Linked DNA regions of Homo sapiens. The protein of the gene in region 3 interacts with the protein of the main gene of each other region in a pairwise test. Each region holds a gene or a part of one and is shown on either strand. Other genes may lie near its edges.

Region 1 (4,547 bases), on a different chromosome or scaffold from region 3:
GAGACAGGGTCTCACTCTTTTGCCCAGGCTGAAGTGCAGTGGTGTAATCTTGGCTCTCTGTAGCCTTGACCTCCTGGGCTTAAGTGATCCTCCCACCTTAGCCTCCCAAGTAGCTGGTACTACAGATGTGTGCCACCACACTCCACTAATTTTTTTGTATTTTTTGTACAGATGGAGTTTTGCCATGTTTCCCAGGCTACTCTCAAACTCCTGGGCTCAAGGGATTCTCCTGCCTCAGCTTCTCAATGCGCTGGGACTTCAGATGTAAGCCACTGTGCCTGGCCTTAATTTTAATTATTTTTTTTGGCGGGGGGGTCTTGCTGTGTCACCCAGGCTAGAGCGCAGTGGTGTGATCATAGCTCAGTGACACCTCAAACTCCTGGGCTCAAGGGATCCTCCCACCTCGGCCTCCCCAAGTAGCTGGGACGACAGGCACCCACCAGCACACCTGGCTAATTTTTGTATTTTTTATAGAGATAGGGTTTCACCACATTGCTCAGGCTGGTCTTGAACTCCTGAGCTCAAGCGATCCACCCATTTCAGCCTCCCAAAGTGCTGAGATTACAGGCGTTAGCCACCACACCCAGCCTAAAAAGTTATTTTTAAAATAATCAAAATCACTTAGTAAAATTGAGGCAAAACAAACTATAAGTTATACTTGTATTAAAATTTAAATTAAGATTTAAAACTAAAATTTTACTTAACTTTTTGAAATTGTTATTAAATATTGCTAAATGTTTTTATGAAAAGAAATCTTAGCAGAGTGTGGTGGCTCACACTTGTAATCCCAGCACTTTGGGAGGCCAAAGTGGGAGGATCGCTTGAGTCCATGAGTTTGAGACCAATCTGGGCAACATAGTGAGACCCTTTCTCTACAAAAAATATTTTAAAAATTAGCCACACATGGCAGTGCATGTCTGTAGTTCAGCTACTTGGGAGGCTGAGGCCAAAGGATCACTTAAGCCCAGGATTTCGAGGCTGCAGTGAGCCATGATTGTGCCACTACACTCCAGCCTGGGTGACAGAGCAAAACTCTTCTCAAAAAGAAACAGAGAGAAGAAAAGAAATCTTCACTATTCACAGTTAAATTCTCTGTGAAGGCTGAAGTAGTGTTTGCTCTGCAGTTAGCAAAAGCACAACCTCCATGCATTGCCCTAGAACCTGAACGGTGCTATCATGACAGTGGGTGTTTGGGTTTGTCTCACACTGCATCAGCACTGAGTGTCAAATCAGTGGTTTGACAAAATGGGAATGCACATGAATTCTTTAATCAATTTATTGGAAATTGATCACTTGTATGTTTGTGATACACTCTAAGGAACAGGCCACAGGCAGATTAGAAGAGAGTGGTAACAGACAAAGCACAATTTCCAGTAAGTGATATTGGAGCAATTTGGAAGGAAAAAAAAGTGCAACGTCTACCTCACACCTTCCACCATAAATTCTAGATGGACCAAATATTAAACATTAAAAATGAAATTCTAAGAGTCCTTTAGAGCACCTGCCCTGGAGTCCCAGCAGTATCAATCCCAGGTGTGGAAACCTCTTCCTTTGCGTGGCTCCCCTGCGTTGTTTGCAGGAGAGGTCTGGAGGAAAGAGAGTCACCCCAGAAATACATCGATGCCTATATAGTGTTGTCTCTCTATCTTGGGTTTTTTCCTGCAGAAACCACTCTGAGACAAGCATCCAAATGCAAATAGATTATTTGGGAAGTAATGCCAAGAAGCACCAGTAAGGTATTGAGAGACAATTCCCCATGGTTCTCTCCTATTTCTGCACACTTGCCAGTAGAGGCACTGGTTGCCCTTGTTCTAAATAATCTTTACAAGGGTGATTATTATAGTGAGTAACCTTAGAAGATAGAGGTAGTATCTCCCTCCAGAGCAAAAGGCAGATTTTATTGTCCCGTATACTAAAGATAACATCTCCCACCTGGGCAGGTTTGCTTGCAGCTTATTATAAAAGACGTGGGTCCCCTAAATTCAGCATGCAGTTTCTCCACCGTAGTGCAACCCAATGCATATGCAGGCATCACCGGGCCATCATCACATCACTCTGTAGGAACTGCGGTTCAGGGAAGTGGTGCAAGAAAATGCTTTTACTCTGTCTACTGCCGTTACTGTAAACAATAATCTGTTGTCTGTTTCTGAACCCAGAGTTCTGTGCCTTCTGCCATGATCCTTGAGAATATGATAGACTATGATAGACTAACTTGTTTGCTTCAAAGTCGGATAAGCCGGGCGCGGTGGCTCACTCCTGTAATCCCAGCACTTTGGGAGGCCGAGGTGGGCAGACCATGAGGTCAAGAGATTGAGACCATCCTGGCCAACATGGTGAAACCCTGTTTCTACTAAAAATACAAAATAGCTGGGTGTGGTGGTGCGCACCTGTAGTCCCAGTACTCGGGAGCCTGAGGCAGGAGAATCGTTTGAACCTGGGAGGCAGAGGTTGCAGTAAGCCAAGATCACGCCACTGCACTCCAGCCTGGCAACAGAATGAGACTCTGTCTCAAAAAAAAAAAAAGAAAGTCGGATAAAATCTCAGCCTTCACACTTATTGATATAAAATGGGAGAGGGGGTGAGACAGGGAAGGAAAGGAAGCCAAAGGAGGTAGGTGGGTTTATGAGTGGGTTCCTTCTGTAGGCAACTGAGGCTCAGTCTTCAGTTGGGAGCTGGCAGAAAACACAAGCCACGGTTGTCCCACCCAAGGGGTGAGGGAGCTGGGCATGTGTCTACCAACTCTCTGTCTTCCTTGGTTTCAGGCTGCTCCAGGGGATTAGCTCTCAGGCACTTTTGGTTACTTACCCACCTGGCCTCTGCAGCAGAGAAAACCTCAGCTCACCATTGCAACTACTCTGTGGGAACTTGAGTGAGAGGGGATGTGAACTGCTTGGACCCCACCAGACTGTGATGGGGGCCTGCCTGAATAGTGCCCATTCCTTGTGCCTGGCACAGTGCCAGCAGATGGTGACTGAATGCATGCCCCATGGCCTAAGGATAAGGATCTATTTGCCTGCCTGTATCCTCCACCAGGCCATGAACTCCTTATGAGTAGGGACCGTGTCAATTTTTCTTTGGTACCACAGTATGACAGTGTAGTCCTGGCAATCAGCTCACTGAAGGTCTGTTGCATGAATGAAAGATGAAAAAAAAAGCCTCTAAAATAAACAAAAAATCAGAGTCAGCCAGAACTAGACTGAACCATTTTTAAGTAGAAAAGGGCCATCTATCCAAAATCAATAGCAAGTGCACTTGACAGGGAGGGACCAGAGGCACCCCAAGTGAGAAACAATATACAAATGCTCTAGTCGTTACAGTTTTTCAATATTGTATTGAAGGTCTCAGCCAAGCTATTAAACAAGGAAAATAAATAAGAGCCATAAGTATTAAAAAGGAAAAGACAGGCCGGGTGTGGTGGCTCAGGCCTGTAATCCCAGCATTTTGGGAGGCCGAGGTGGCAGATCACTTGAGGTCAGGAGTTCGAGACCAGCCTGGCCAACATGGCAAAACCCCGTCTCTACTGAAAATACAAAAAAAAAATTAGCCTGGCATGGTGGTGGACGCCTGTAATCCCAGCTACTCGGGAGGCTGAGCCAAGAGAATCGCTTGAACCTGGGAGATCGCGCCACTGCACTCCAGTCTGGGCAACAGAGTGGCACTTTGTCTCAAAAAAAAAAAAAAGAAAGAAAGGAAAAGACAAATTTGTCATTGTCATTATTTTCAGTGGTAAAATGTCAATGTAGAAAATCCAAGAGAAGCAACAACAAGCACATCTTGTAAGAGAAAACAAAAAGGTGTCCAGTTATAAGATAAACCCCTGTAAATTAATGGCTTGCCCATGCAGCAGCAAGAACCAGTTAGGCCATCTCTCTGTATAATACATAACAAGAAAAACTGTAACATCTGAGACTAGATAAGCAGGAAAGTGAACCTTCCATGAGGGGCACAGCCCTGGTGCAGCCACAGTAAGAAAAAATGAGAAGGGGGGAGCTGAAAGCCACCTTCCGCTTGGCTGTGAGTTGTATTCTCCTGCCCACCCTTAGCCCACCAAATCTTCTCCGGGGCCCCTGAGTCAGGTGCACAGTCAGGGTCCTAATGTCCTTCCCTAAACTAGCCCTCTGCACTAGGGGATGGACGCAAGCTGGCTGTCCCAGAGTGTGGAGTGGCTGTGTTCTTTCCCTATAGCAAAGCCAAGGGCATTAGTACAGCTGTGGGCAGGGTTCCTAAGCCAGGCCTGAGGCTCCCATCGGGAGTGGGAGTGGGTGGTGAGAGAATGAGGGGACAGCCAGATAGTGAGAGGGTTCAGAGCTCATGGGGTAAAGGCAGCCTCTCTGGCCCCTCCTCAAGACCAAGTGGAAGGGAAGAGCTCTGCAAACTGGCAGAGAACTTGGTCTGGGGCCATGTAGTGGAGGGGCAACACCCCAAAGACCTGAGGCTCCTCTACAATTTGTCTGGCCCCCACCCCTCACCCTGCCAAATATAGGCACAGGCCTGGCACCCAGTTGATGGTGCTCAGGGTACAGAGGAGTAAATAAAAGCTGGAATAG
Region 2 (9,294 bases), on a different chromosome or scaffold from region 3:
TTCTTCCTCTCACTTCCCACAGCCAAGTCTTCGCAAATCCTGCCAGCACCACCTTCAAAATACTGTCGAGCAACAAGCTGACCACTTCTCACCACCTCTCCCCCAAGGTGCATCTCAGCCCAAGCCTCCTAATTGGACTCTGTTTCTCCCGCTTCCTCTCCACAATCTATTCTCAACCCAGCAGCCAAAGTCATATTTTAAAATCTAAGTCACAACATGTCACTGCCCTTCTCCAATGGCTCTCCTCATTCACAGTAAAAGCCAAAGTTCTTTCATGGCTGAGAAAGTCCTACAAGATTTGTCCCCAATGCCAGGCATAGCTTGCTGACCTCCTTTCCTAATCACCCTCCTCTCATTGTGCCCCTGGCACACGGGCTTCCCACTGTTCCTCCACCATGCCCAGTGTGGTCCCACCTCAGGACCTTTGCACCTGTTGTTCTCTCTGCCTAGAACACTCCTCCCTAACAGAGCCACATGGATTACCCCTTCATTTCCTTCAAATCTCTACTCAAATGGTACCTAATTAGTATGGATTTCACAGAGAAGTCTACATAAAAAAGCAACCCCATTCCAACTCTTATATTCCCCATACACAGAGGGCCCTGGCATTAATATTTTTAGACCAACCCATTTCTTGGAAAATCAGACTTCTCAACCCTTCTTAGATATTTTAATCAAGAACTGTCAGGTGGTCATGAGTGCTATAGCTAAAAAGTTTATTATTCATTTGCTATTTATTTTGTCTTCCTCCTTTAGACTATAAGCTTCATGAGGGCAAGGACTTTGTTTTTTTCACGTAGTGCTTGGAATGAATGCATCTCCTCCATGCCTTTTTTTTGCTTTGTTTTTTTTTTTTTTTGAGACCAAGTCTCACTTTTGTTGCCCAGGCTGGAGTGCAATGGCATGATCTTGGCTCACTGCAACCTCTGCCTCCTGGGTTCAAGCAATTCTCCTATCTCAACCTCCTGAGTAGCTGGGACTACAGGTGCCCACCACCACGCCCAGCTAATTTATGTATTTTTAGTAGAGATGGAGTTTCACCATATTGGTCAGGCTGGTCTTGCCTGACCTCAGGTGATCCACCAGCCTTGGCCTCTCAAAGTGCTGGGATTACAAGCGTGAGCCACCAGGCCCAGCCTGATGCCCTAGTTTTAATGACCACTTATAACAAATGACTCCCAAGTTTTAATATTGTTAGCACCAACCTTTACTCTGATGTCCATGACAACTCTTCTTGGTTGTTTAAAGGCATCTGAAACTCAACAGGTACAAAGCTGAACTCATGATCTTCCTCTCCAAGTCTAGGCCTCTTTTCATAGTCTCTCCATTAATTGTCAACACTGCCATTCAATAAATATTTATTGAACACCAACTCTGTGCCAGGCACAGGAGACAGAGCTGTGACCAAAACAGACACTCTCATGGAGTGGACATTTTAGTGGATCCTCCATTCCTTTGGGCAAGCCAGACATCAAGTTAGCTTTAATACCCCTCTTCCTCATCGTGATCCTCCCCATGACTAATCCAGCACCAAGTCGGGTGGATTTTTACCTTCTAAATATGGCTTGACCCATTCCTTTCCTATCTCCACTACCAACACTCCACTCTAGCCCCTATTATCCGTCTCTCATCAGAATGAAGATAACAATCTCCTAACTTAACCAGAATCCACTCTACCCCTCCCAATGCATTCTCCATACTGCAATTCTGATTAATCCCTCCCATGGTCACCACCGCTACCTGGTTGTAAATGCTCAGTGGTTTTCCACTGCTCTTTTACTCTCCCAACTCCAGCCATCATGGCCTTTTCCCATCTTTGTACTTACCATGCCCCTCTTGCCACAGATTCTTTGCACACTCTGTTGTCTGTTCTTGGAAAACTTTCTCCTCCTCACCTACTTAACTTATACTCATTCTTCACATTTCAGCTGTAGTGTAACTTCTTCAAGGAAGCCTTTTCTGATATCAGTCAAACTTTCTGTTAATGAGCTCTCCTAGAGCCACAAATCTCCCCTTCTTAAGCTTCTCACAGTAGCACATTTACATTTACATGTGGGGTTATCTGGTTAATGTCTTCCTCCCCCTAGGCTGCAATCTCCCGGAGAGAAAGGACACATCTGTTGCATTCATCGTTAATCCCAGGGTGTAGAACAGTGCCTGACACATAGTAGAAGAGCAGTAAGCATTTGTCAAGTGGATGAATGAATGAATAGCTGGAAAGAGGATCTAGTAAAGTAATGCACGTAAAGCTCCTAGTATAGTAATCCATACATACTAAGTCTTAATTACCATTAATTATCTTACCCCCTCCACCCAGGGAATTCCCAGAACTTGGGAAGGGAAAGTGGCAGGAGTTAGCATCAATGTCTCACAGTGTAATCATGTCACTGCCATCTGTTTCCTTTCGTTCTATATTCAAAAGGCTATAAATGATTTAGACAAATCCTAGCATACTCTGACCCTCCTCCAAAACCAACAGGCAGATGTTGAGGGAGGAAGGTGAGTGGGCCTTAGGCGATCTTATTTTTCCTCTCCTCATAAGGTGGGGGAAGGCCTGGGAACTGAGTGTGTGGCACCTGAGGCTGTATCTTAAGAGTTTGCATGGTAATCCTAGAGAACCACAGATAGCATCCAAGCCAGATGCCAGTCAGAGAGACCCCCGTCCCGGACTCTCTAATTGATGTCCCAGAGCCTTGGGAGGAGGACATGGTTATCATGCTCAGGTTTAACATCCCGAGTGTCTTCTTCATGGCTGCAAGGTGCAAGCACACAGCTAGTATATGCAACTCCAGTGGGAATGAGACTGGATTCCAAATCAGTGGGAAGACAGAGAATAATGGAAACGTAGGAAAGAGGTAGGAAGAGAAAAATAGGGGCATGTCAAGGCGTCGCTGTAGTGCGCATGACAGCAAGGGACAAAAACAAAAACAGAGATGAGAGAACTCCAGACTTGACCCTCCAAGGGCCTGGACAGGCCATCAGGCCGGGCAGTCTCCATCCCCTGACCTCCTCAGCCTGCACTGATTGGGAGGGGCCTCCTCCCTCCCGCCACCGTGGGAAGAGAGAACATGATTCCCTGCAGATCTGAGCAAAGTGCCACAGCCTCCCAGGATGCTCAGCCCTGCCCTGAGAGCTGGGGTGGGTAGGAGGATGGCAGAGAGCGGTCAAGAGCAGTTATTGCCACAGGACACCGGGGGAAGAAGGCGCTGGAGAGAAGGATGGAAGCAGGCAGGACAAGTTCGGAAGGTCAGATGGGATAAAGGCGTCTTTGGTAGGTAGTTCCCGCTTGCCTTTGACCTCTGTTGAGTCTACAAACAGGTATTATGTGCCAACTCTATTTTGGTTAGGGAGACAGGTATGGGTGTGCCTGGGAGGCTCAGGCTACTGGGTGGAATTCAGAAATACCGCGGGGGACAGTCCTCAGCCCCAAACTCAGCCCACTCCTTCCTCGCAAGCTCCCTGGGCCCAAAGCTTGCCGGGCCTCAGTTTCTCCTCCGAGAAAGGGGAGGGCGAGGCTGGCAGTACCTGGCGGCGTCGGGTGGAAGGCAGGGGGCGCACTTGATGGCGTACTCCGTCCGCCAGCGCCTGTGCCGCGCCTGGAACACCTGGCTGAAGCCGCCGCTGGCCACTAGGCGCCAGTCGCCCTCGAAGTCGTCGCGGGTGAAGACGGGGAGGCTGCCCAGCCGCAGCTCGGTGGGGTCGGCAGCCATTGCCCCTCTCTTCCTGTCCCCGCGCCGCGCACTCCCCGCTGTGGCTGCTGCCTGGGTGGCCGAAGGAGCCGCCGCTTCCTGCTCCTCGGGTCCGGGAGAGGGGAATGGGGAGACGAGCCGGCCCTGCCTCCTTCCCCGCCCAAGAGGAGCCGCTCCTGCCCCGCAAAGGTGGGGAAATCCCAGACATGAGCCCTGAGGCCCCAGCAGGGATGGAGCGACCTGGGCCTGGGGAAGAGGGTATGTCCCTCCGAAGCCCTCGCATTTCCCCTGTCTCAGCCTTTGATTTTCCCCAGTTCCCCCTAGGGAGGGATGCTGGGAGAAGGTGTCCCGAAGCTGGAAGAAGTCCAGCCTGAGAAGTTGGATCCAGTTTATTTAGGCCCAGCGCTAAGTGAAATCGGTTTATGCATTCCTTCAGTGCATTCAAGGTTTTATGGTTTATGAAGGATTCAGGCCTGGACCCCTGCCCCTATCCAGCAAGTATGGGGCTCAAACAATTTTAATGGGGATTTTCTGGTCTGAATCTGTTGGTCTGACTGGTTTCATGTTTCCTTTGTTCTTGTTGGGGTTTTGTTTGTTTGTTTGTTAGCCAGCCTTGGTGTGCTATAGGTTACCAAGGAGGGGTCAGCAGGGACAGAGTTGCGGGGGAGGCTGGGCTCCTGTCTGCAGGGGACTCCCTTCCTGGGCTGCGCTCTATCCAACCTCAGAGGGATGGACCCCAGCCTCGGGGTGGCCACGGGGGAGGTGGCCTCCTTGGCGCAGTTACTAGGGGCAGTTTGTTGCCAGGGATGAGAGGAGGCTCTAGCTGGAGCCTGACCAGTGCTGAGCTTGGAGGTTCCCCTGGGTCCTGGGTCCATGGGATTGCCCTCTCACCTTGGAGACCCTCAGAGCAGGGAAAATGACAAGTGCTTGAACAGACAGGTCTCCCCAGGGGCACTGACCAAGTGGGCCATTGCCCAGAGACAGGCATACCTGGAGGAACTGTGGCCACGGAGTGCAGAGTCAGCCACTATTTGCCTACAGCTGAGTAAGTCCACAAGGAGCCCTCAGAGTGATCACTGTTAGGTTTGAGGAGCCTACCTACCAGACAAGGAAGTGCCTTGCCTTCAGCCCAAACCTGCAGAGCCCCTCGTCCATGCCACAAGCCCACCAGACTCCCAGGGAACAGTGTAGGCATGATAGGCAAACAGAGACTCCCTGTGGAAGCTGGAGAACTTGCTCCCTCTGTAACAACTTACCTGCAACTTCCAGGATGAATTCTGGCAAGCAGATTAAGGATCAAAGATTGGGCCTGGAGACAGTTGTCATAGAAACTAGTGATAGCCACTACTAATTGAACACTCACTTTGTTCCAGGATCAGTGACTATTTCAGTTACTGCATTGCTTTACATATATTATCCTGTTTATCTTGCAACAATGTTATGAGGTCAACATCTTCTATTCACAGATGAGGAAACTGGCTTCAAGACAATAAGTAATCAATGGACACATAGCTAGTAAGTGGTAGTTGATATTCAAACTCAAGTCTCTTAGTTTCTATGGAAATGGTTGGCCAGGGGAGGATCAGGGAGTAGCCTTTTATGAATACAAAAAAGGAAGAGAGAGAGTCATGCTCCCTGGAAGAGGGTGGAGATGATGGAAACTGCATCAGGAGCAGGACGTATCCCCCAAACATATGTCAGAGGGAGGCCCCCAGCTTGCTTTGGCTGGAGCAAGACAGGGCATAACAGAACCCATTGTCTCTGGAGTAGCCCTGCCTGCCCAAGTTTAAAGCCTCTGCCAGAGAAGTTTGGAAGGTGATAAAGGACATTGTCATCAGGGAGACCAGGAGGTCAAGAGGATGTTTCATACCTTCTACTGGGAGGGTGAACATGGAGACTGGGAAGGTGACCAGCCACCCAGCTCTGCGGAAGTTTGACTGAGGCCCGATCTTTGACATTCAGCGAGACCTATCTCAGCTCCTGGAGGAAATACCAAGGGTGAATGGCCTGAGTCATTTCAGCAGTTCCCCTTGATCCACTTATACCTGAAGTGGCTCTCCAGGGAGAGGAAGTAACCAGAAGCTGCCATTGTCTGCCTGCAGAGACTGTCACAGGAATACTGAAGAAAGCATCATTCCTAGAAGAGGGGACACCCAGGGCTCAAGGCATGTTGCCAGAATCCCGAACAAAATACCTCTGAATTTCTCACAGGGGTGGAGGTGGAGGAACTGCAGGGTCAGGGCGTATTACTGCTGACCCACCTGTTGAAACTCTCTGCTGTGGGTTCAAGCACCCCTGAGGCTTCTGAGGAGTCAGTCAAAATAGATACATTCATTGACCCAGAGGGACTGGATCATTTGACTGGGCTTGTCCTGCTCCTTACAGCTGTCTAACATGGGCTAGGGCAAAGGCCTAGTAGTCTTTGGATAAGCTCTGGGAGAAGTTGTAAGTGGAGGGACCCTTTCTGAGTATAAGGTCACAGAGGCAAAGAACTCCTGGATCTCTCATTAAAAGTGGGGTGAGGTATAGGGATTTGCAAAAGAGTAAAGTCAACTCAGAGGCTGCTGGTTTCTTTCCAGTGGTCTGAGTGCAGAAGTCCCTAGGTCCTGGCTGGTTGGGAAGTCAGCAGCCAGTGTGTGGAGGGGAGAGAGCTGGGGGGTTGGGAGGGAAACTCTACCTTTACCCATATCTACCTACAAATGGGAATGGATAATGAAGTGGTTATAGTCCAATTATGACCCCCACCCACCAGAAGGGGCAAGGAACAGGTTCTAGCTATAGAAGTTTTACCCCAAAATGCTCTGAGTCCTTCCAACTAACCTCTATCAGTGCATTTTGTTTGGGCAGATTGAAGATGGAAGTGTTCTGGATTTGGAGTTATTAAATGAATTTTGTGTGTATGTGTGATTGTCTTTGGGGAACCTAAGATTTTTAGCCTGCTCCTCCCAGACAAGTGAGCTGGTACAGGAGCTCTGCAATACTTTAGAAGATGCTGAAATCTGATGTGAGCCTTTCCCCAAACCGGAATGACAAGCTATTTGCATATAGGGAAGTTTCCCAGTCTGCCCCTGTTCTCCACCCTGCAAACATGTCACGGAGAACCCTGGACAGGTTCTGGCAGGCCCCAGCCTCTGGTAGCTTGTGTACTGAGGTTGGTCAGGATAAAGGAATGTATGCAGGAAAGTGGAACATCTGTTCAGGAAGCAGGACTCCCAGAGTGAAAGGGATTGAATGAGGCAATAGGAACAGGGTTTAAATGTGGGAGTGAGTCAGTCAGTCAGACCCGCATTTAAACCCTGGCTTCTTTCTATCACTTAGCATTTGTTTAACCTTGGTCACATTATCAAATCTTTCTGGGTTTCTCCATCTGTAAAATAGATGATAATCATAATAACCATTCCAAAACATTGCTATAAGAATTATAACCTTTAAAAATATACCTAGTATATTAGTATAATATTATACTAATATAACATAAAAATACAATATAATATCATATTAGTTTAATATACCTAGGATATTTTTAAAGGTTATAATTCTTACAGCAACCTTTTGGAATGGTTATTATGATTATCATCCATAAAATATATCTAAATACTAGGTATATTTTTAAAGGTTACATTCCTTAGGTATATACTAGGAATACTCCTAGGCAAAAAATATGAACCAGCTGATACTTCACACCTGAAAAATTAACTCAAAATGAATCATGGACTTAAATATTAAATGTAAACTTATAAAAATTTTAGGAAAAAAAAAGGAGAAAATATTCTGGACCTAGGATTAGATGAAAAGTTCTTAGGCCGAATCCCACAGGCACAATCCATAAAAGGGAAAATTGATAAACTGAACCTCATCAAAATGAAAAACTCTCACTCAGTGAAAGACCTGGTGAAGGTGAAGAGAAGAGTGCAGATGGGGAGAAAATGTTTGTAAAGCACATATTTGACAAAGTGCTGGTTCATAGAGTATATAAGGAGGTCTTCAAACTCAATGCTAAAAAAGCATCAAATTAGAAAATGGGAAAATACATTTCTCTGAAGAGAATATACAGATGACAAATAAGTTCTTGAAAAAATGTTTAATATCATGAGCCACTAAGCAATGCAAGTAAGATATCACTAACTACCTATCAGAATGGCTAAAAATAAAACTGAAAAGATAGTGGCAACGCCAAATGCTGATGAGGATGTAGAGTAATGGGATCACTCATACGCTGGTGGAAATGTAAAATGGTATGGCAATTCTAGAAAAGAATTTGGCCATTTCTTATAAGACTAAACATATGATTACCATACAACCCAGCAATTGCACTCTTGGGAATCTATCCCAGAGAAATGAAAACAGTGTTCACACAAAAATCTGTATATGAATGCTCATTGCAGCTTTATTTGCAATAGCTAAAATCTGGAAACCGCTCAGATGTCCTTCAACCAATGAATGGCTAAACACACCATAGTGCTGTATTATGGAATAGGACTCAGCAACTACTGATATACACAGCCACTTGGATGAGGCCCCAGAGAATTCTATTGAGTGAACAAAGCCAATCATAAAAGGTTACATACTGTATGACTCCATTTATATTGCATTCTTAAAATGACAAAATTATAGAGATGGAGAACAGATTAGTGGTTGTCAGAGGTGAGATTGGGGGAGAGGCAGGTGGGTGTAGCTGTAAAAGGTTAGTGCAAAGGAACCTTGTGATGAAACTATTCTGTATCTTAACTGTGGTGGTGGCCACATGAATCAATGCATGTGACAAAATTCCATCAAATTAAATGCACACACAGATGCACACACACACACAAATGAGTGCATGTAAAACTGACGGCACCTGTGTAAGGACTATGGATTGTATCACTGATTTCCTGGTTGTAATGTTGTGCTATAGTGACATAAGATGTTACCTTTGGGGGAAACTGGGTGAGGGTATCTCTGCATAAGTTCTTAAAATTGTGTGCTTATCTGTAATTATCTCCAAGCAGAACATTTAAAAAATACAAATAAAGCCCCCTTCTTCTCTTCTTCCTCCTCCTCCTTTTCCTCCTCCTCCTTTTCCTCCTCCTACTTCTCCTTCCCCCTTCTATTTCTCGTTCTTGTCCTTATTACTAGGTAATGTTATATTCTTGGAAGGAAAATATTCCCATAATAGGAGAAAGGCAGTAATCTAACATTTACCACAGAATGCCTTAAGGAACACAGCTGGCCCCCTGTGGACACGTAGAAACCCCAAGGAGAAAGAGAAAGGCCACTGTGTTAAATGTCTGAGGCTGGAGACGATGGAGAGAGGGAGCGAACTAGTTCCTTCTAAGACTCAATTTCTGGAGTTGGCAGAGTATAGATTTTCCTTCCTAATAAGGAAACCAGTCTCTCTTTTGAAGGGCTTTTTGATGAAAAACTACCTTGAGTGTCAAGAAGCCAAAAATGGAAGCCCTGAGTTTCATGAACCATGGTTCTCATTGTCAAAATCATGGCCACAGGTTCTTTATGGTCTTGGGTGATTGTGATTCTGGGCTGGGTCCATATAAAAATAACAAACAGATGTCTCAAGCATCCTGCCATCTCAAGCAGTTTAGAAGAAATGCTTGGCTGTGGCCAGGGC
Region 3 (8,678 bases):
ATTCCCATATTCAAGGATCTGAGACTTTCCTTTTATCCCAGTAATTACTAGAAAACATGTGCTCTCTACTAAGGAAGTTCTCACAAAGCCTATACGGAATTAGTTAATAGTTAAGTGCCACTCACTATACGGAATTAGGTAATTAGTGAATTAGGTGCATTCGCTATAGTTCTAGAAAAGACTCTGAAGTGCCACTAGAGGACCATGTCTCTTGTACGCTGTGACAGATGTTTGCTGAAAAAATGAGCAAGGTGAGCGAGCAGAGTCTGTAATACATTTGGATAATTTTTGAAATTGGGGGATTTAAAAACTATATCGAAGCTGATAATGAGATGTGAGTTCATTTGAAAGGAGAAGAAAAACGGGTGCAAATTCTTAAGCTTTCAAAAATGCACATTTTCAATTCCCAAATGAGACTGTAAAATCTTTCAAGATTGGGGTCTGGTTCTTCTATCCCAAAATAAAACTAATATGCATTAAAAATATGTTAAGCAGCAAAGGTGATTAACAGTGAGGATGAGAGATAAAACAGTCTTAACTATTCAGCTTAATTTAACAAGTATTCGAGTTCCTATAATATACTTAACAGGTGAAAAAAATTAAATGTATGCAAATACAAAATCAGGTAATGTTAGAGGCTCCACTTTTTAAAACTAAGTCACCAACTCCCTATAAAAAGAACATTTCTTAAATTTATAAAAAGCCTGAATGGAAAGAAAATGTAAAACACAAAGCAAATAACTAGTCTAGACTCTACTGCTGGACTGCACTAACTAATCAACCAAGATACAAAAGATAGGGCCCTGGCAGTCGTTACTCTGGGGAGCCTCAGGTATAAACTCTGCTGAGCTCTGACAAATCCTGTTGATCTGGTTAGGTCCCTGCCTCTAACTCTTTTCACTACCATCTCACAGAACTTTATTGCTCCATTGCTCTTCTGTTCTAAGTTGGTCATTAAGAGTAAATATGAAGGGACATGAGGCACTTCTGACTAAGACCAACTAGTTAAAGGTAGTAAAATCTAAAATAAAATCCATTTCTTCTAACCCTTAGGTACATCTCTCAACATACACAAAAAGCTATTTTGTATTGGGCGAGTTTGACCCAATCTCCTAGCATTTATCTTGAATACAACAGTTCTCAAACTTGAGTGAGCATAAGAATCACAAAGGGAGTCACTTTAAAATCCCCTTCCCCCATGTCTTTGGGCAAAAGAATCTACATTTTTAATAGACATCCCAGATGACTGATGAGTGGTGTACAACCACTTTTAAAAACAGCTGCTGCTCTATCACTACTTAACAAATAGCCTCTGCACTCAAGAGTGCTTTGTTTTATAACACAGAAACGTTCACACTGTAACAAACTGGATTTTGGGAAGTGAATTCTATTTTCCCATAAGTAGACTTTAAAATTTTAAAGATACATTATTCATTTTGAAGGCTGGGAGTGATTTCTTATACTTTCTTCTATAGGCCACATTCCATGCTTTTCCCTTCCTCATCTTCACCACAGTGGTTAAAGATTTAGAATTTAGAAATCCTTTTAAAAGAGCATTTTTCACCCCAATTTATCTTTTTTATTCGTCAGGAATGCGAGTATTTGAAAAGTTGACTTGTAAACCTTACTTCTGAAACCACACCTTGAAAATGCCAAATATCTCTTTAGGAAAGAAAATGTTTGTACCAAAAAGGTCCACATTTAAGGAAAATGCTGCTATTAAATAATGCTTAGATACAAGGTACTGAGAAACAGCGAGAATTTTATTATTTTTCAGAAAAAGAAGACACTTTTTTAAAGTACCTATGGAGGATCATCACCAAGTAAGAAATGGCACTTCTAGTAATGCACTTGGGCACAGTAAACACAGTCCCAGACTGAAGCCTGGTGAAGTGAATTCTAGGCTCAGTTTTGCCACAAAAGAGCCATGTGACTTTGGGAAACAACCTCTCTGGGTCTAAGTTTAATTTATAAAATAAGATAGTTAAATAAAAGTAACACTTTGATTCTAGCAGCTTAATTCACTGGGAAGTATTTACCTCAAAAAGCATTTGAGGTATGTAACACCTCTAACGTGTTTGATCAAATGACATAATTAAAACTGAACTGGAAACTTGATATTGTGAATAACTTACTTAGGCTGTTCTCGTAGCTATCAATTACATATCATTGTACTTTGCTTCTTCAAAAAAGCTGAATACTTTGAACGTCTAATGTTCACATATTGAGTTTTCTTAAAGTCAGGTACGTATGTACCATAGTCGTTTTGTAAAAGGAAAGAATGTATCTTTTCAGTCCTTTTTCCCAACCCATTGTCATTGCAGACTGAGAAAAAAACAGCTTGAAGTCTTAACCACCAAAAGCAACAGTGCTGCAGTAATTACACCACAAAAATAACATTTCATTCTTAATGAATACTCAGTCTCCTGAGATTACAGTTATCTTCTGGTAACCAACTTTATTCTGTCTGCTCTCATTCGTTAGTGCAAACATTTTCAATTTTAACCCATATTCAGTTCACAAATCATACTTATTTCCAACGGAATATACTGAGTCCAAAAAAAAAATTCCCCAATAGTCCAACAGGAAGCAACACATGCATTTGGCAATTCCAAGGAGGCTGGGGACTCACAGATACCTCGTTCAAAATAAATAAACTTTCCAAGGATTTATTTACCGACGGGAAAGGCAGGTTTGAAAACAACCAGTTAACTTCACTCCCAAGTTGGCATCTTAGAGAATCTTTGTGCGTTTGCAAAACACCCAGGACCTCTGAGCCTCCCAGCCGAGAATTGGCCAGGGGAGCACACGCCCATCGGCCCTGCCGGGAGAGGAAACAATGGGAGAGGCGCGAGGGAGCAAGCCGGCGCCCCGGGCGCCCCAACTCTGCGGCCCCGGCCCGCCCCGACCCCACGCGCCGCGCCCCCTCCCCGGGCGCCCAGGCCCCCCAGGCCCCCGCCCCCGAGCCCCGGGACGCGGCCCACCTGCGGCGGCGCGGGGAGACGGCTGCACTTACCAAACAGGGTCAGGGCCATTGTAAAGGCGCTCGCCGCCGCCCGCGAGTCCAGGCGCTCCTCCCAGGCGGGCTAGGGATCACCTCATCAGCCCGCCGCACCCACACCTCGGAGAGAGTGGGGTGCCCGATGGGGCGTGCTGGGGGCGCCGGCGCCCGGGGAGGCTGCAGGCCGGGACGCGGGGGACCGCTGCAAGAAAAAGTTATTCACGCGTTATTGTCGGGCGCACCGGGCCCAGGGAGCCCCGCTAGCTCTCCGCGAGCCGGCACTTGTCGCTGCCATCAGGCGCGGAGCGTGCGCGCGGGAGGAGGTACCTGCGAGGCAGGAGGCTTGGCCGCGGCGCAGTGGCTGGCGGAGAGGCGGCGCCGCACTGGCGGCGGCGGCGGCGGCGACGGGGAGAGCAGCAGCAGCCTCGCACAGCCCCCGGCGGGGCGCGCTCACTCCGCATCCCGCGGCCTCGCAGACGCCATCTTGCGATAGCGTCTCCCACGAGCTCGGCCGCGCCGCTGCCTCCCGCCTCTCCCTCGGGCTTCCCGGTCGAGTGCGTTCCCATGGCAACGGGCGCGCGCGGGGGTAAGAGGGTGCGCCCTCATTCCCGCGGCTGCGAGGAGCCACCAGCGCCCCCCTGGAGGCGGCCGCCCGGAGCGGGATGGAGCGGGGCCGGTGTGCGTTTTAGCTGAAAGCCCAGGTTTTTTCTTGAATGGAATTTGAGGAGGCGCAGAGAGGAGAAAAACGCTGTTACTCGAAAGAGGAAGAGTCACAGGAGGATGCTGAGTGAACGCAGCGCCCAGGCAGGGTCATCTGGGGACCTGGTGCGTGTGAGAACATATTTCTTCTCCTGGCGCCCTCCAGGCTCACTGTGGCTGGAGCCGGTGACCTGAAGCTGCAGGGCTCTGGTAGGAACAGAGGCACTGAAAGCTGCATTCCTCTCCGTTTGGACTTAGGAGCTGCTAGTAGTTCTGATGAAATTGACACACATTAGGAAAAGGAGTCGCTTAAAAAGCATCTGAGATTACCTAAGATAATTTGTTAAAAGACCAATGCTTACACCTGATTTTCTTCCCTTTACATTATACCTCTTTGATATTGTCTCAAGGAAAAAAAAATCAGCATGTGTCACTGACTGGCACTTATTTGCCACAAAAGATTGTTCCCCTGAGCTTCTTGTATTTATCTGATAATCACTGGCAACGTCCTCCTTTCTGTGATGTTGTCTCCTCACCTCTGTCTCTGCCATGAGGAGCCATACAACGCCTTGAGATTGTCAGCCAAAAGATGTTCTTGAAAAGCTGGGTTATATGTTTTTCGTCGTTGTCGTTTAATGTATTCAAAAAGTCATTCTTCTCTAGTTGCTATATGTGTTCCCTGTTTAAGAAATTCCTTCTTTTTTCTTGTTTCTCTGCTTAGGGATTTGATACTATTTTGGTATCTGATCATGTAGATCTTCTCTTTGGTTCTCCTTTCTTTCTACAGGCGTCTTTCCTCTTAGTTCCTCAGGTTCCCTAGTGTCTTCTCTCCCATTTTCAAATAATTCTTTAAGAATATTATAGAAATATCTTGTATTTAATGTATCTTAGAGATCGAATCCTGATAAAGTGGGAGATTACTACAGTACTTCCAATGGAACCACAGTTAATTCACCATCATTATTTCAAAGCAGACTTAAGCATCAGAAGAAAAGCAGGTTGGAAGGAGGAGCCAAGCCTTTTGTTTCAAGTCAGTTAACTCAGGAAGAAAGAAATATTAAAATGATTCAACATGAATGGGCAAGTGTTTAAGATGCTATATGTTTGGAATTTTGTGATGTAAAATGGCTCTCTTTAGCCACTAATCAAAATACATCTTTAAAATCCCCAGAATTTAAAATCTTTCATGAAAATGGACTCTTGATTTTGAACAACCTTTCTGCTCATAAAAAATTACAAACACACAGCTCATGAAAATAAATGAGAAACTCAAGAAAGCTTTGTGGGATAGATTTTATAACCATATAAAGATTGCTGCTAATCTGCTCTGCAGCCAAATAAATCAGAAACCGAAGACTCCATTTACTGTTTCAACTAGTGGTCTTCAACATTTTTGGACCAAATTTCCTTTTGAGGCTCTAATGAAAATACTGTCCCTCCTCTTAGAAAAGTGCTTGCATACATACACACATTCACCGGAAATTTTTCACATAATTTCAAGGGGATTATGGGCTATTCAGGGACCTTAGGTGAGCCCCTGGAAGTGTTTTTTGTAATCTCAGAAAGTTTTTGCCTTTATAATTTAAAGGAAAATATTTTCCTTCAGAATAGAACCATTGAATTTTGAATAGGAAAAGACCAAAACTCCCATGATTTATAGGTAAAAAAATTGAGTTCCCCGTAAAAAGATTTTCCCAAATGTGTTCACCTATTTAGTAGCAGAACCAATGGGAAAATCTTAGATTTCTGGTGTTCTCACCGACCACCTTCCCTACCCACATCCCGCATCAATTTAGAGGTTGCATGGTTTGAATTTCAAAAGAAAAATCTGTTTAGTATTAGAAGCAAAATAACGAGAGTATTTTGTCCTTAGCCATTCTGCATAGAGTTTGGGAAGTTGCATTTTGTCTCAAAGAGTTTTTATTAACATGCCCTTCTACTCAGAACTATGTGTCCCATCATGCTAAAAGAGAAACAATGCCTTTCTCTCCTCTTTGTTAAGCTCTGTTAGAGCATCAAGGTTTTGGTGCTGCAGCTCAGCTTGCTAGTAGCTCTCTCCATCCCTTGAGGGGTTGTCCTGGGAGTGAGACAGAGAGAAAGGAGCTGCCCTGCACTCAGATTTACCCTCCCATCATACAGCCGGCCTTTGGTTACTAGACCAGCTTTCCACTCACTAGTTTGGCCAAATACAACTGAATCCTAGTGAAATACCCTGCTTAAACTCAAGTGAAGATCCTTTTCCTCTCCCCTTTCTACTCGCACACCCACGTACACACACACACACACAGCTGTTTTTAAGGTACAATTTGGAACAAAACAGTGTGAATGTTGCTATGTTTCCCTTTAAAGCATCCTGCTTTCCACGAGCCATTCCTTTCAACTGACTTCCAAATGGTTTGATGCTCTAACAAAATGCTCTCTATACTTGATCAAAGTGCCTGTCTTGGAAATAGTATTGGCTTTTAAAATAGCGTATTTTTTTCAATGAGCTATTCCTATTCTATTGCATGTGCTTCTTTTCTCACTTAGCTGAAAATAAAGCCACAGCCTTTCAGCTACAGAGTCAATGCAAGGAAGGGCGTTAACTGCTTGGAGGTGATTATTACGGGTGGTGACTTAGATTGTTTATAAAAGAAGGGCAAAGAATGAATTGACTTCTCAAAATATTTATGTTTTCATTCAATGATTTCATTTTGTGCTTAACATGCAAGTGCTTAGAAGAGCCAGATTTGTTTATTCGTTACTAACTAGCTGTCAGATTTTTAGACAAATGTTTTACTGTTTCTAGTTCTTATCTTCCTCCTTTGTAAAATGAAAGGATGGTACTAAGGTATCTCTAATGTCCCTTTTAGGTTTATCTGTCATTGTGTGATATTTTAAAATCTTTAAATTAACTGGTTTATGGATAAAACAGAGGACATTTTTATTTGAATCTTCAATATATTTAAAGTGCTGTTATATCTAAAGTTCATAAATACCTAATGTAATAAAGAAGTCATATTTTGTCAAACCAGTGGTACTGCTATTTCTTCTGCAATGTGTTGTACTAATAATGTTATATTAATCATGTAGAAAGCAACCTTTTTCTGGTTTAACAGGATTAAAATTAAAAGTGTGCACTGAACAACCCATTTCAAATTTACTAAAACAATTTCTCATTTTTATTTAAGTTTTGTTGACTAAACAGAACCTAGACAACCCTTTAAAATGGTTTTCCTACATTTTAAACTAATGACTTATCACAAGTGTTTTGAATTTCTTTTTGTTACCCATTTAGCTTCATTCCCATTGGTAAACATTGATTTGTTCCTCAGTTTTCAATGAAGCAGAAATTAATGAGGCGGTTTCTGCCTCACAATAACAAGTTAAAATTATAGTACTTTGTCATGTCAACACAGCTTTAAACACTAGGAATACCAGTGCTATTAGCACAGTTCCCAAAATAGTGCAGAAGTTTGCTAGTGAAGAGAAAAATGTTACACAGTATACTTCTGCTAAAGTTAAAATTAAGAAAGTTAAAATTATTTAAATATTCACAATATGTGACATTCTCTCTATCCCATATTTATGTTACTAGTTACAGTGTTTGTTTCCACTGTGTGAATTTGTTTAAAGTGGATTTGTTTTTGTTTTGAGACAGGGTCTCACTCTGTCACCCAGGCTGGAATGCAGTGGCACAATCTCAGCTCCCTGCAGCCTTGAGTTCGTGGGCTCTAGCAATCCTCCTACCCCAGCCTCTGGAGTAGCTGGAACCACAGGTGCATGCCACCACACTCGGCTAATTTTTGTATTTTTAGTAGAGACAGGGTTTGCCATGTTGCCCAGGCTGGTCTGGAACTCCTGAGCTCAAGCAATCCACTCCTCTCAGCCTCCCCAAAGTGCTGTGATTGCAGGCATGAGCCACTGTATCCAGCTATTTGGTCTGTTTGGTTTTTTGTTTTTTTTTTTTTAGACGGAGTTTCACTGTGTCACCCAGGCTGGAGTGCAGTAATCTCAGAGCTGACTGCAATCTCTGCCTCCCAGGTTCAAGTGATTCTCCTGCCTCAGCCTCCTGAGTAGCTGGGATTACAGGCATGAGCCACCACACCTGGTTAACTTTTTGTATTTTTTAGTAGAAATTGGTTTCACCATGTTGACCAGGCTGGTCTTGAACTCCTGACCTCAAGTGATCCACCTGCCTTGGCCTCCCAAAGTGCTGGGATTACAGGCATGAGCCACCGCGCCTAGACTATTTGGTTTGTTTTTAACAACGTTTTCCTTAAACACTTAATTCCGATTATTTTTTACCCCCCTTCTTGTTTTTTATCTCAGACTTTCTGAATTAATAACTTACCTGATATTTGTGTGGCATTCCATGATTTACAAATAGCACTTTCACAGGACAAAGACATATGCACACAAGTAACTAAGGCAGCACTTGCCTCAAACATAAGGATTTAGACCATAACACTATTTATGACAAAAATAATATTTATGTCATAAACTGTAAAATTGCCCGTTAAGCTTAAATAACTCAATGTTTAGGAGAATTATTTGTGTTCTGTTCACCACCAGAGGGTGCCTAAATTATAATAGTAATATTGGGCCTTAGAAATGAAGTAAAACTCAATTTGAGAAATACATAAGAAACCTTAAGAATTTAAAACTTTCTCAGTTCCCCTACACAGTGCTTGCTATAGTAGCAGAAGATAGTCACCAAAAATATGCTAAAATGAGAGGTGGCTATCATCTGGCTAGGCGCAGATTAGGAATTGGATTATTACTGAGGAAACACTGCTCAGCTCTTATTATATCACTTCCGAAGTAAAAAGAAAATGTGTTTGTAGAAGCTGTGTGTGTGTGTGTGTGTGTGTGTGTGTGTGGGTGTGAAGGGAGGGGAAATTGGAATTGAAAATCAGAACCAGGAGAATGGAGTTCTTGTTCATTGCTCAGCACCAAGAGGAACTCTTAGTTCAATAGGCAATAAAACCACAGATAT
Region 4 (8,729 bases), about 44 Mb from region 3:
GGTGTGTGTGTGCAGTAAAGGGTGGGTGCTGTGTCTAAGAGTTCAGGGGCAGTATCCGAAGGCAGGATGTTTGTTGGGGGTTGAGGGGGGCGTCTCTGTAGGGTCTCTGCTCTCTTTCCCATCCCCTTTAGGCTCCTCCAATTCAGAAATTCTAATCAAATAGCTAGTCTCACTAGCTAGTTCCAAATAAGGTGGACCAGGATTGTTTCCCCAGCCAGAGGTGGGAGAGTAGAGCGGCTGCCCAGCCCGCTCAGTCTGGTTACTATGGCGACAGCCGACAGCCGCGGAGTGACCCTAGTGATCCTCCCTCCCTCCTCCCAAACCAAGAGAGATGACGGCACCGCGCTGACTGCGCCAAATTCCAGCCAATGGGCGGCTGCTCCCGCCTTCCCTTCCGCCAGCTCTCCCCCTCCCTCCGGGAACTCAATTCACAAATCTGGACTGGGGATTTCCGGCTCCAGGCAGGTTACAAGGGCGCTGGGCTGAGGCCAGGGGAATCGAGTCCTGTCGTCCCGGGAGGGCAAGTGGGGACCGACATTTTTGGGTTCTGGAGCCAGACTTCTATAACTCGCCGCCAGAATAGATGACACCCTATTCCCAAATTATCCGGAAGACCTAGTTGAGGCCGAGTCTGCAACTCTTCCTGCCCTTACAAGCCCCGACCCCGCCCGAGCGCGCCATTCAGCACCACGGACAGCGAACCCGGGCCTCGTCTTGGCAGGTCCCCCCGGGTTCTTTCCGGATCTTCTCGGCCACGGCCAGACTAGGGTCGGAGCCGCGGGCACTCTGTTGAAGCCAGGCCTCTTTGGGCCAATGAAACAGTGAACAGGGCGCTTAGCCACGTGGCTAAGAAGGCAATGGGGACCGAGCAGGGATCTCAGGCTAAATAGCGCATTTTCCTTCCTGTTTCAATCCCAGAGAATGGCTTCCTTCTCCCCAACTGCCCTTGTTTGCCCCTTCTTGGGGATAAAGGGCAAGGGTCTGAGTCTCAAGCAGGGATGGACCCCCCAAGACTCCTGAGTGGGCGTGCGACCTGGGCATCGTCGAAGCAGCCCCATGGTGGTTGGGGGATGAGGAGAGAAGTATGGCAGACAGGCCCCACTTGGGAGTGGTGAACACAGACTTAGGCCCGACTGTACTCTTGACCGATATATGGTGGGGAGAGATGGGGAGGAAGGGAAAAATAGCAATAAGGACTAGCTAGTTCTGCCTCAATGGGTCTCATCACAGAAAGGGCACAACTCCGCTGTCCCCATGATTCGGTCTCTAAGTGGCCCGGGCATTAATGAGGAGCTAGGTCAGACAAGATGGAGGCGGAAGTGGGGGGATGGATTCAGCTTTATCACCAGGCCTCACCCTCAGCTGCCTCGCTTTACTCTTTACTCTCTGTAAAATGGAAGCCGATGGCGGGGGTGGGGATGGGGAGGAGGAGAAGTTCTCAGGTACTTGATCTCCCCTACTAGAGCCCCATCTCTTGCCTTTCTGCTCTGTCTGTGACAGTTCCATTACCACTCCCACTCCCTCCCTCCCGGGGCCCAAAGAAAGACCGGCGCAAAACCATCTGCAGGCGCTTCCAGCGCTTTATAGTTCTTTCCGGGACAGACGGACAGACAGACAGTGCGGCCCGCTCTGTCGGCCCGCATCATTGGCACCTTGGACACGGCCCCAGGCCCAACTCAGTCCCTGGTACCCTACCGGGAGGATTCCGGTCCCGCCCCAGCTCAGCACCTCGGACAGTTCCCGGCCCAGCCTACCCCCCTCCCCCCTCCCTCCGCAAACAACCAAATAAATTAAAAGGGGCAGTGGGGAGGAGCAACAAAAAAGCTAAGGATAAGGAAGCGGGATGTCCCTCCTCCAAGGTAAGAAGTTTTCTTTTCCTCCCACCTGTCCACTGAGGCGCCGCGGCCGGGGTGGTCTCCCAGGTTGATTTTGCCTCCAAACCTCAGCCTCCTGAAAGAAGCCGGCAGCCCCTTCCCCCACACCCCCCAGCTCCCAGCATGCAACACGTTGGAAAAGGTGGGGAGAGGCGGTGGGGGTGGGGCGAGGGACCATCCTGGTGGCTGTCTGGATACCTGGGACTGCAGTTTCTCCTGGCACCTCAGTCGATCCAAATTAAAAACTAATATTCCCTTTGATCAGGGGAGAGGGGTGTGGTGACTCAGTCAGGAATAAAAAAATGCAAGCTGACACAAGTGGAGGAAGAAGGCAGACAGGAGGGAAGATGGTGACACATGACAGGAGCAACAAGAAGGGCAGATGGGGACACAGGTGCAGGAGGAGAAACAGGGGTCTACGGGGTACAGTCAGGCAAGGGGTAAGATGGAGATGCAGACACACAAACCCAAGGAACGGAAAATGGAAAGGCAGGGAGAGGGAGGAAGAAAGAGAGGAACAGGAGAGAGAGGGAGAGAGAGAGAGAGGAATGCAGACAGGAGGAAAAATGAAGACACAAAAAGGAGGCAAGGAAATGGATAAAACCGAGGGGGAATGGGCTGAAGGGAAGGGGGAGACCCCGGCAGAAATGGAGAAATGGGGGCGCAGACAGACGGGAAGAGTGAGGTTGGAGTGCCTTTCCCGCGCTCATCTTCCGTCCCCACTCCACGCCCAGCAAATCCAAACACCGCGGCCTCTGGTGTCCCGGTCTCCACTTTCCCCTGAGGGGCATGGGCGTCTCCTCCTCCGCCCAGCCGGGGCGCTGAGCGGCGGTAACAGCGGCGGTGGCTTTGTGGTCCCGGGGGGTCCGAGTGTGTGTCAGGGGCTGGGGCGGGGGATGGGCGCGGCCCCTGGGTATCCCTAGCGGTCCAGGTTCATAGTCCAGTGCTTGGTTCCGGCCGCGCAGCTGTCCCTGGCGGCCGAGGAGGCGGCGGGCGCGCCCCCGCTCGGTGGGCCCCCGCCGCTGGCGGCGGCCTCGCCCTCGTTCTTGAGGTCTTGAAAGACCTGCGTGAAGAAGTGGGGGTCGGCGTTGAGCCGCAGCATCTGCGGGCTGAGCCGCTGGATGAGGCGCAGGCAGCGCTGCCAGAAGCGCTCCTTGTCGGGCTCCACGAGGAAGGGCTTGAGTGGGTAGGAGATCTCGTTGCCCATGTAGGAGTAGGCGAGGTAGAGGCAGGTGAGGAAGGCGGCCTGCAGCTCGGCGGCCGACGCCAGCTCGTCCCCACGCAGCGACTCGCGGCACAGCAGGTACACGAACACCAGGTTTGCAGGCGTAATGAAGGCCTGGTCTTGCCAGCCCTGCAGCAGCAGCGAGCGGTCCACACCGCGGAACCAGCCCACCAGCTCGCCCGGGCTCAGCTCCTTGAGGCGATAGCAGCGTCGGCACACGAAGTCGCCCAGACAGCGCAGCAGCTCGCCGGTGGACGCCTGCACGATGACCCGCCGCGGCGAGCCGCCAGGCACCGGCGGCGCCACCTGCGGGGCTGGGGGAGGCGGCGGCGGAGGCTTTCCCCCGCCCGAGCCCGGCGGCTGAGCGGCCGCGCTGCCCCCCGACGGTGGCTCGCAGGTGGCGGCAGCCGCGGGCACGGTGGGCACTGGCACCGCCAGGGGCTTGGCGGTGCCGCCGCCGTCGGGGGGATCCCGGCCCTTGCGGAGAAGGTTCTCGCGGTTGCGTTGCTGGACCAGGGGGTCGGGGCCCGTGGATGCCGGCTTGGGTGTCACCTTCTTGCTGCCTTTCTTCTTCTTGGCGGACGCGGCCACCAGGCGCTTCCAGGTGAGCGCCGAGATGAGCACGGACGGCCGCTTGAGTCGGCTCTCGCCTTTGCCGCCCTTGCCCACTGGCGGCGCCCCGTAGCCCCCCAGCGCCTCGTCCCCCGCGGGCGGCGCCTTCTTCTTCTCCTCGGGCAGCCCGCCGGGCCTCCGGCCCTTGGCCGAGGAGGCAGGCGAAAGAGACAGCACTGTGCCCATCCTGCAGAGCGGGGCCGGCGCCCAGGCCCCAGCGGGAGCCGCGGGCGGCGCCGCTGCTACTGCAGCCCCGGGGGACCCGGCGGTGGGGGGCCTAGCCCCGGCCCGGGCGCGCGGACTGGCGGGGGAAGGTGGCTGCTAGGCGGCTCCGCTGCTCTAATCCTGAGCTGCGCCAGCTGCAGCGTCAGCCCCACCCCTTGGGCCCCTTTTTTCGTCGCGCCGTGCCCCGCCTCACGCGGCCAATCCGCTCCCGAGTTGCACTCCTGATGGGCAGCTCCAATGACCAATAGACTCTCGCACTTCAATTTCAAGTCCCGCCCCAATCCCCACCCTCCGCCCTGAGTCTTTTCCCTTCCCCCGAGCGGAGGAAGGGGAAGGCGGTGGTCGTCGTTCGAGTGGCCTCCTCAGGGTCAGAGTTGAGAAGGGGTGGTGGCTGCTCCTGCCTCCTCCGGATCCTAGGGCCTGGACCAGCTTGTTCTGATGCACTGGGTCGCGGTAGCAGATAAACCATGGGAACAGCTCTCCTTCCCTCTGCCTTTGAATTTGTGTGGGGGGCCAGTGTGAGCAGTGAGTGCCCTCACCGGATGCCCAGGTCCCAGATGGGTCGCGTTGCACTGGCTCCTCCAATGTGACTGTCAGGTCTGTTTCCTCTTCGCGACCCCACCTCGCCCCCCACCCCCCAGGTCGCTAGGGGGGCTGCAGCAGGCACATTTCTGCCCTGCCTGTTTGGGAGTCCTGGCAGAGCCTTCTTGCAGGTCACAACCCGCCTTCTTGGGGGTTCCAGCTTGAGGGGGAGAGGGGGAGCAGCAAGGTCTCAAATATGCCCCTGAGGCTTCTGCTTGCCGTCCTGATTCTCTGCAACTGAGCCTGTGGGGCAGACCCTTGGCTCTGGTCCCTGGGCAGCTCCTCTCGGTTGGTTGTCCCCACTAACACACACAGATCTCATACTTGGGTGGATGATGGATAAGGTTGGTCCCTGGGGAAACGCTAGAAATTGGATCACTTGGTCTACCCAGTCTTGGATAGTGAACGGAGCCTCCTGTGTGGACGGAAGCCCAAGAGGGTTGGACCAACCTCCAGCCCAGCCCTGGGTCCAGGTTGAGGTGGGTTTCATCATTAAATGCTTCCTGCAGGTAAGGTTCCAGCTGTCCCCACTCCCAGGAGCAAGCTGTTAGGCTGGGTCCTGTCCACTTCTCTCTGGGTCTGTCTGTTACCTCCTGAGTACCCATCAGCCCTTTGCCCTGGATTTTGGACTCCCCAGGCCTTACCTGCAGGTCTTGAGCACAGCTAGTTCTGGACCTATTCTATCTGCCTTGTTAGATCATGTCCACCCTTCTTGGAGCCTGCTCTCTGTGGCTCCCCCAGCACAAGAGCCTTCAGGCTTCTTAAGTAAGTGGACCTTGTAGGTGCATATGGGTTCCATGTGGAGCCAAACCCCTGCCTATGTATTTCAGTAAATTCTAAGGATTGCCCTTGGAGTCACCTCCATGCTCCTCACAGACCGCAAACATAGCTCCAAGGATCCACTGCTGTCAGGGTTGGTTTGTGCATATATGTGTGTGTGTGTGTCACTGCAGATAGGCTGTTCTAGAATCCACTTGGGCTGCAGTTCCAGCTACCAGAGGTACAGAATTTCCCAGCCATTCCACAGCCCCTGGTCACTCACACCCTCCTGGAGGCCTGTGGTCTGCCTGTCTCCATTCCCCTCCTCTTTACCACTGTGCACATGCAGCCTTGTACCTTCTCCCTAACTCAGCACCCAATATGCACTTTTTCAACAGGGTATCTCTGCTCCCTAGGATCTGATCTTTATTTTCTTGCAGCCCAAGCTGACCTTCCCAAACTCATTCTCCTCATAGTTCTTGAAAGTGTTCCCTCTTTTCAGCTCCTGTAATTGGCCCCACTTCCTCCTACAAGGTGTTCTGAGTCACTCTTTATCTGCCAACCAAGGAATAGTCAGTTCACCGGTAGTTAAGGACAAGCCCTGTAGAGACTGAGTTGCACTGGCGGAAACACTGGGCATGTGGATCTAAATGGCACATGAGTCCTTCCAGCGCTGCTCCCAGGAGTCCCTCACTGGCATAAGGCCTATTGTTAAGGTCATTTAGGACCACGTCTTCTAAGCAGCACCCACAGAGTGTCACCACTGTGGTACCCTATTCCCGGCCCAGCTCTGACCTCCTATTGTCCTCTTGGTCAGAACCAAGAATTTCCTCCTCTGCTTCAGGGACCCCAAAGCAGGTGCCTCAGAGGGTCCTACTCCCCTTCCTCACTTTCCACCTTGCTCTGCCTCCAACCCTGTTTCTGGCTCACATGCTCCCCACCCTCCTGCTCTGGTTATCTCTCCAGAATCTCTGAGCTCCTTCCACTGGGCCAGAACCCTCTCTCAGAATGTCAAGCTCTTGAACTCCCACCTCCTCCAAGAAGCTTTTTTGATAGATTGGAAGGGACCTAATACTCTTTCTGACTTCAGCCTTTCCAGCCTTTTCCCATCAGCAACAGTGGCTACATAACAACTTGGTTAAGGGCTGGGCTCTGGGTCTAAGATGTGCAAGATGGATATGGATGGAATTTTAAAGACAAGCAGACAAGCTAATCAAAGAGATCCAGAAAGAGTAACAACATTGCTGTTGTATATAAGCCGGTGGCATTGAGAGCTGAGAGGGAGGGTTATTATGTTTCTGCAGGGGGAGCCCAAGGGGAATAAGCCTAGTGAAACCAGAAAGACTTCATGGAGGAGGTGGGCTTCATAGAAGGTTGGTGGCTTTCCCACATTTGCAAGTGTACTCTTCTGGTTAGGTTATGTTTGGGTTCATATTCTGAGATTCATCTATCTTCATTATAATAGTATCTCTGTGTTGCTTCTCATCTCTCCATCTCCCTTATGTTCCTCTGGGGCAGTGCTGGTTGTGTCAGACTTCCTTAGATGGGAAAGCCCCTGAGGCCAGTCTCCTTGTCTGTCTTCATTGCTCTGTAGGTTACCTAGAACAGTGCCTATTCAGATTACTGGTTATTCCTGAAGGTTCTTTAAGGCAAATACTCTAGGCCCAGACCAAGAACTGGAGGGCCTAGACTGAGGTTTTAGCCTGGATAGGATCTGGCCTTATTGATGAGTGCATCCCATCAGATTCACCAGAGATGCTCCTCTCACTCACCCAACCTGGGCAGGTGGGCCCCATCTTTTAAGAGAACATCTCCGGACAATGCTGCTCACACTTTGCCTCCCTTTTGCTCTTCTTATCTCCCTTCTGAGAAGCCATAGTCTGGGAGGCAGGACACGGGAGTCCTAGTCTATGGCTGCCAGTTGTATGACCTTGGGGAAGTAATTTCAGCTCTCTGGGACTCGGTTTCATCATATTAAAATGCAAGGGTTCTACGGATTTGACTCTTATTATCAGATAAAAATGAATATTAAAAGAACAAGATAACATTTTAGGAATTGGACTAGAGGAGGATTCCTAAAGCCTCTTTCAACTCCACAGTTCTGATTCTAAACAAAATCTGTCCTGTGAATCTGTTTCACTCTCCAGCTCCAGCCCTGTCTGCTTCTCCCTAATCTGTTTCTGTCTGATGGGCTCAGTCTTTGTGTGCACAGCATCCATGTGAGGCCTGCACTTCTGCGGTTCACCCCAGGAGATGAAGGGGAGGGGAGCTTAGGCTCTCAGCAATGTAAATCTCCCTAGGTCCCTCCAAGCTTTAGAGGGGCCCCTGAAAGGTGAGAAGGCAAAGAAGAGGAGGGCAAGATGGCTGAGGCCCAGGATATCCCCAGTAAACATCAAAGGCCCCAGAAACCAAGGTCATTGCACCTCCCTGTAGGGGCCCCTACAAGGAGGCTAATGATGACACAGGTTCTTAAAACAGCCAGGATGGAGACCCAGCCTGGGCATCTGAGTGCCTGGATCCTGCTGCCCCCCCCCCCACCCTGGCACCCCCAACTCCCTTGCCCATCAGTCTCAGCTCCTGAGGTGTGCAGAGGGGGTGGGTATGCACGAGCCCAGACTTCTCTCCCTCTCCTGAGGACCTTACCCCAGGGGAGAAGTGGGTGGCTAAAACAAAGGAGGGGAGCAGAACCCCTCTACAGATAACAGTGGAGGGGGGAGGGGGTAAGCAGAGAGAAGAGAGGAATTGACAGAGGAGGTGCTGCTAGCTGTCAGGAGGGAGACCCAAATTCTCATGTCTTCCCATTTCGCAGGCTGTTTGCTAGAAGGACTTAATTAAGGAGCCCAAATATAGTTTCTTTTGAACAGTGAATAGGGCTGGGAGCACAGATGAGGAATGTGATGCTCTGGGGTGGGGAGAGAAGGGACCAATGCTGAGATGCTGGAGGGCCCAGGGTGAAGGGGACAGAGAAGACAGGGGTGAGCTGGTGACTCCTTTTCCCTGCCTTAAGCTCTGCTGCTTTCCTTGATGGAAGGGGGGCCATTTCTTCCTTTCCCATCCTCTGTCCTGATCTCCCTCCAACTCCCTGGCTCCTGCCTTCACCTCCTTTACTGTCCCCTGAGAACAGCTCTCTCTGTCCAGTCCTCCCAGCACTCACCAGAAGCTTTAAGTCTTGGTTCACCTTCTGCCTCCACCAAGCCCCCTTTTTGCCTCCTCCCTTTCGTCCCCCACTCCTTCTCCTCCCAGGCCCCGCTGGCGCCCAGCATAGCACTACAGATGTAGGAGCAGATCAAGAAGGGTGGGGGTGGTAGCTGTTGCTTTTCTGGGATATTCTTAGCCTGTCTGGGGGCTGGAGCTGGAATCAGCGTTTCCATCTCAACCAGGCAGGTGGCTGCCAGAAACTGCCACTGTGACTGGGTCTTCATCTGGTTCCATATCCCTTATCCTGTCCCTTC

Evidence for each region.
Region 1: the proteins of CHN1 (region 3) and HEMK1 interact in binary tests that used the Homo sapiens proteins (3 or more experiments, as listed by UniProt).
Region 2: the proteins of CHN1 (region 3) and ANKK1 interact in binary tests that used the Homo sapiens proteins (3 or more experiments, as listed by UniProt).
Region 4: the proteins of CHN1 (region 3) and CDK5R2 interact in a two-hybrid assay, tested with the Homo sapiens proteins (one study listed by IntAct).

The regions. Positions count from the first base shown.
Region 1 is NC_000003.12:50,592,882-50,597,428, reverse strand, and holds the end of HEMK1 (MTRF1L release factor glutamine methyltransferase), read right to left. Parts: 3' UTR 1,263-4,547; downstream 1-1,262. UniProt on the Homo sapiens protein: N5-glutamine methyltransferase responsible for the methylation of the glutamine residue in the universally conserved GGQ motif of the mitochondrial translation release factors MTRF1, MTRF1L, MRPL58/ICT1 and MTRFR.
Region 2 is NC_000011.10:113,382,301-113,391,594, reverse strand, and holds the start of ANKK1 (ankyrin repeat and protein kinase domain-containing protein 1), read right to left. Parts: upstream 3,817-9,294; 5' UTR 3,711-3,816; coding exon 3,526-3,710; intron 3,520-3,525; exon of another isoform or gene 1,206-3,519; intron 1-1,205.
Region 3 is NC_000002.12:175,001,878-175,010,555, forward strand, and holds the start of CHN1 (N-chimaerin), read right to left. Parts: upstream 3,505-8,678; 5' UTR 3,036-3,504; coding exon 3,017-3,035; intron 1-3,016. UniProt on the Homo sapiens protein: GTPase-activating protein for p21-rac and a phorbol ester receptor. Involved in the assembly of neuronal locomotor circuits as a direct effector of EPHA4 in axon guidance.
Region 4 is NC_000002.12:218,954,989-218,963,717, reverse strand, and holds CDK5R2 (cyclin-dependent kinase 5 activator 2), read right to left. Parts: upstream 4,053-8,729; 5' UTR 3,898-4,052; coding exon 2,794-3,897; 3' UTR 1,563-2,793; downstream 1-1,562. UniProt on the Homo sapiens protein: Activator of CDK5/TPKII.